2 separate regions of the Homo sapiens genome follow, and region 1 is linked to region 2. Evidence: fine-mapped expression QTL. Tissue or cell type: whole blood. Region 2 holds a variant in brackets; the other region holds the start of a gene. All regions are shown on one strand. Distances are from middle to middle.

Region 1 (2,500 bases), 27 kb after region 2:
GGGGTGACCCGTGGCAGGTTCAAGACTTACACAGTGTGAGAGTGTGTGTGGGTGACATTTCCTGACCTTGTCCCCATTCTCAGGGTCACCCAACCTCGGGGGTCTCCAGCTTCTCACAGTGTGTGATGAGGGTATGTGGATGGCTCCCTGGATGTCCTGGACAGGGGCTTCTCTGTGAGTCAAGCCTGGGTGTGTGAATGGGTGAGCAGGGTTTGGAGAGGCATTCGCTGAATCCACGTGTGTGCCTACACGCCAAGGTCCCCCATTCTCACTTCCCCACACACATGCACACAGATGTTCCCCTCCAGGGCTCTTTAGAATGCCCTGCCTGACTGAATTCCTCTTCAGGGGCACAGAGGGATAGAGAGAGGGAGGAAGGTAGGATGGGAATGGGAGATCCCGGGATGGAGGCTGTAAGCGTAGAGAGAGGAGGCACAGCAGAAAGACAGGGATGGAGATAGTGGGACAGAGAAGGGGGAAAGAGACAGGTGACAGAAAGGGTTAGAGAAACGAGTGACAGAAAGACAGGGGACAGAGACAAGGGGATGGGGCAGATAGGGGACAGAGAAAAAGGGACAGAAAAACAAGGGTGACAGCGAGACAGAGACAGGGACCAAGAATAGGGGCAGAGAGGGAGGGCAGAAATCCGGGGGAAAGAGAATAGACAGGATGATGGAGGGGACAGAGTGACCCAGGAAAAGGGGACAGAGACCAGGGGACAGAGGTAGGGGACAAAGACAGAATAGATGAGGAACACCGAGGCAAGAAGAGAGGGAGACAGACAGAAGGAGGGACAGGACTTCGAGACTGAGGGATAGAGGACAAGGGTAGGGGGACGAGGAGCCAGACGGGGGGGTTCAGAGACGGGCGGACAGAGGGACGCAGAGACTGGACAGAAGGACAGCGGGACCGGCCTGGGGAGGGCGGACTTGTGTGTGTAGGGGGGTCTCGGGCCCTTTGTCCCCGCCGGGATCCAGCCTGCGCGGGTGGGGGGGCTGCGGCACGGCGGCCGGGCCCCGCGCCCCCTCCCCCGCTCGTCGCTCCCGGCTCCCGGCCCGCGCTGCGCTTTGTCCCGGGGAGGGGGCCCGGCCCGGCCCCGCGCGCATTGTTCGGCCTCTGCGGCCCCGAGGCTGCCGGGCTGTCACCACAGCGCGCCCCCCGCCCCAGCCCGGCCGGCCGACCCCGGCCCCCGACCCTACCTGGCCCCGCCGCGGCCGCCCACAGCAGCAGCAGCGGCCACTGGAAGCGCCGGGCCCGGCCCATGGTGCCGCCGCCGCCGCCGCCGCCGCTCGCTCCCGGCCCGGCACCTGCACCGCCCGCGCCGCCCGCCCCGCCCCCCGCGCCCCGCCCCCTGCCCGCCCGGGGGCGGGGCGCCGAGGCCGGGGCGGGGCCGGGGAGGGGAGGGGGAGACGGAGGAGAGGCCCGGAGACAATCGGGGGGACGGCACGGTGGGGGAACGGTGCGGGGTGCGAAAGCTGGAGAGGAGAGGGGTGAGGAGGGCGGGAAGGGGTGCGCGGGAGGGCGACAGCGGCGTGGGAGCAGGTGGGGGATCTCGGTGAGCGCGGGAAATGGAGGGTGTTGGGTGAGGGTGCTGCGTGCGGGCCCAGGTGCTGCGCGCGAGGGTGCGGAGTTGCTGGCATGCAGGGTGCTTGCGCTGCGCGGAGGGGAGGGTGGCAGGGTGTTGCTGGAGGCTGTGCGAGGGTGGGGGCGCGGGCGTCGTGGGGTGCGGTGTGTGCGAAGGGAGAGCGTGGCCAGCGTGACGGGGGAGCGTAAGGGAGGGAGTGCGACGTGGGAAAGGTGAGTGTGAGAGGCGTGCTGCGGGCAGGTGGGTGTCTGGAGTCTAGCGAGAGGCTGTGAGCTGAGCCACCGGGACAGGGGAGGCTGCAGCTGGAGGTCCGGAGGGTCCGGAGGTCGAGGCAGGTCAAGGATCTCCCAGGGCAGGGCGAGGCTGGGGCTCAGGAGTGGGGTGGGGTCAGTTCCCTCCCTCCCTCTCTCCTGTCCTGACCTGAAAACCCCGTGTTTCCGCGTCATTCTCCGGGAGGGGCCCCCTGAAAGTGAACTAACTGGAAGGAAGCCTGAATCCTGGGTCCCAGGAGGGAGAGGCTCCTGTGAACACCTTCCAAGCCCTGGCGTCCCCTCTCCTCCCTGCTGTCTCCCTGCCCCAGCCTCTCTCCCTCTCTCTGCATGTATTTGCCTCTGCCCTTCCTCTCTCCCCATCTTTGAGGGTGACTCACCCCTCCAGACTTAGGTCCCTTCTCCCTCCTGGGAGTGGGTTTCCCTGAGCCCACTTCTGTGACACCCTGTAGACCTGATGCGGGATCATTACCTATGGGACCCAGAAAGAGTGAGAAACCATGGAAAGAAGGCCTCGACCTCTCTCATGCCCATTTGTCAGGCAAACTGAGGTCCAGAAGTGCCAATTATGAACATCTTTCCTTCCCCCCTCCCCCCTCCCCGCCCAGACGGAGTCTCGCTCTGTTGCCCAGGCTGGAGTGCAGTG
Region 2 (2,937 bases):
TCGCTGTCACCCAGGCTGGCGTGCAATGGCGTGATCTTGGCTCACTGCAACCTCCGCCTCCAAGGTTCAAGCGATCCTCCCACCTCAGCCTCCCAAGTAGCTGGGATTACAAGCGTGTGCTATCACACCTGGCTAATTTTTATATTTTTGGTAGAGATGGGGTTTCACCTTGTTGGTTAGGCTGGTCTTGAACTCCTGACCTCAGGTGATCTGCCTGCCTCAGCCTCCCAAAGTGCTGGGATTACAGGTGTGAGCCACCGCGCCCAGCCTGACCCTTTCTTTCTCTACTGGCAAAACTCCTGCTCCTTTTTAAAGCCAAGCTCATGTCACCTCCTCTGTGAAGTCCTCGCTGACTCCCCAAGCGGTCAGTGTCTCTCTCGTATGGGCTCCCCGGCCCCTGCACTGCTCTCCATCACACCCTGACCACTCTGGGCAGTGGCCCCCCTCCCCACCCACTGACTATGGGCTCCTTGAAGGCAGGGCCTGGGTCTGCCCCATCTCTGTGTCCCCAGCAATGCTGGGCATGAGTCAGCCTCAGAAGACATCTGCTGAATGGCTGCAAACCAGAGGAAATATCTCCAGCCTCAGGCTGGGACCCCTCCCCTCTCTCCTCCCACCTCTGACTTCATACCACTCACCCTCCAGAGTCTTCAATGCCCACTATTACTTCACACAGTTGGCCTGTGACAGGCAATCAGGTCATCGTCCACGGCTACCAGGTGTTTCATGTCTACTGTGACTTCCAGGACCACAAGCCCTTTTGCGCCCACCATGTCTTCACCTAAGAGATCTTCAAAGCCCAGTATGTCTCTGGCACCCAGTGGATCCTCCATGCCCACTGCGGATCCCAAGCCTCCTGCCTCCTTGAAGTCCACCAAATCAGCAACACCCAACAGATCCTTAGTGCCCACCAAACCAGCGACATCCCGTAACTCAGTCATGAGCCCAAGCAGTTCCAAGTCCACCAAATCGACCAGTACAAAAAGAGCCCCTTCTAACCGGCCCAGCAGCAGGTCCCGAGTCCGCAGCAAAGCAAGAACACCCAGCAGGGTGAGCACCGACACCAGGACCAGCAAAGCCAGCAAGGCCAGCGACGTGAGATGCCACCAGCGGAGGGGCACACACAGCCGGGGTAGGACACCTGGCAGAAGGGGAAGCCGCAGCTCCAAGAGGTCACCCAGCAGGGCCAGCACTCCTGGCAGGATAAGAACTCATGGTGCCAGACCAGGCATGGCCAGCAGGGTGAGAACTCCCACTTCACAGCAAAAAGGGAGCCGGGGAAAGAGTTACGGCCGGCCTAGAACCAGCAACAGGGAAAGGAGTGACAGCCAGCCTAGAAATCTGAGCAAGAAGAGTTACCGCCCACCAGGAGGCTCAGGTATAGGGAGGAGTTCCGAGCTGGCTGTAACTCCCAGTACAGCCAAGTGTCAAACCCCGACTGGAATTCCCTCCAAGGAGAAGAGTGACAACCCATCTCCATCCTCATCAAGGAAGGTGAAGAGCTACGGTCAGATGATCATCCCCAGTAGGGAAAAGAGTTACAGCCCCA[C/T]TGAAATGTCCAGCAGGGTCAAGAGTTATAACCAGGCCAGCACCCGCAGCAGGCCGCAAAGTCACAGCCAATCTAGAAGCCCCAGAAGGTCAAGAAGTGGCAGTCAGAAGAGGACGCACAGCAGAGTGAGAAGTCACAGTTGGAAGAGAAACCATAGCAGGGCAAGAAGTCGCACCCGGAAGGGAATTCTGAGCCAGATGGGAAGACACAGCCAGTCTAGAAGCCACAGCAAGGGGAAAAGTCAAAACCAATCTAGAACCCCCAGAAGAGGAAGAAGTCACAACTGGTCTAGAAACCCCAGCAAGGAAAGAAGTCATAGCCATTCCAGAAGCTCCAGCAAAGAGAGAGATCACAGGGGATCTAGCAGCCCCAGGAAGGAGAGTGGTCGCAGTCAATCAGGAAGCCCCAACAAGCAGAGAGATCACAGCCGATCTAGAAGTCCCAACAAGGCGAGAGATCGCAGCCGATCTAGAAGTCCCTACAAGGCGAGAGATCGCAGCCGATCTAGAAGTCCCAACAAGGCGAGAGATTGCAGCCGATCTAGAAGTCCCTACAAGGCGAGAGATCGCAGCCGATCTAGAAGTCCCAACAAGGCAAGAGATCATAGCCGATCTAGAAGTCCCAACAAGGCGAGAGATCGCAGCCGATCTAGAAGCCCCAGCAAGGAAAGAGATCACAGCCAACTTGGAAGCCCCAGCAAAGAGAGAGATCACAGACGATCTAGAAGCCCCAGCAAGGAGAGACAGTGCAGACAATCTAGAAGCTCCAGCAAAGAGAGAGATCACAGACGATCTAGAAGCCCCAGCAAGGAGAGACAGCGCAGACAATCTAGAAGCCCCAACAAGGAGAGAGATCGCAGCCAATCTAGAAGCCCCAGCGAGGAGAGAGAGCACAGACAATCCAGAAGCCCCAGCAAAGAGAGAGATCGCAGACGATGGAGAAGCCCCAGCAAGGAGAGAGAGCGCAGACAATCTAGAAGCTCCAGCGAGGAGAGAGATCACAGCCGATCTAGAAGCCCCAATAAGCAGAGTGGTTACAGTCGACCTAGAGCCTCCAGCAAGGAGAAAGCTCATAGCCGATCTAGAACCCCCAGCAAAGAAGGAAATCATAGCCAATCTAGAACCTCTAGCAAGGAGAGCGACCCCAGTCAATCTACAGTCCCCAGAAGTCCCGACTGGAAGAGATCCCCTACTAGGACAAGCAGTCTCAGTCAGAATAGAACCCCTAGCAAGACAAGCAGCCACTCCCCATCAACATTTCCCAGTGGGGGCCAAACCCTAAGCCAGGATGACAGTCAAGCCGACGCCACCACCTCTAAGGCCACCTTACCTGGGGAAAGGTCTTCATCATCTTCTTCCAAGCTGGCGTAGCCCCCAGTCTCAGCTGGC

The links. PIP is the estimated chance that this variant, and not a neighbour inherited with it, causes the effect. A credible set is the group of variants that fine-mapping cannot tell apart.
Region 1: CADM4 starts here. The variant in region 2 is the best candidate, but not a certain one, in a credible set for the expression of CADM4 in whole blood (INTERVAL, PIP 0.71).

The regions. Positions count from the first base shown.
Region 1 is chr19:43,638,528-43,641,027 of GRCh38, forward strand. CADM4 (cell adhesion molecule 4) reads right to left here and starts at 1,323. Exons shown (of 9, transcript NM_145296.2): 1 at 1,200-1,323. The coding sequence starts at 1,263. RefSeq lists a silencer at 1,207-1,346.
Region 2 is chr19:43,611,351-43,614,287 of GRCh38, forward strand. It overlaps ZNF428 (zinc finger protein 428), which reads right to left. Exons shown (of 3, transcript NM_182498.4): 2 at 2,879-2,937. SRRM5 (serine/arginine repetitive matrix 5) reads left to right here and starts at 738. Exons shown (of 1, transcript NM_001145641.2): 1 at 738-2,937. The coding sequence starts at 772. The coding sequence ends at 2,919. The variant C/T (reference allele first, on the strand shown) is at 1,550.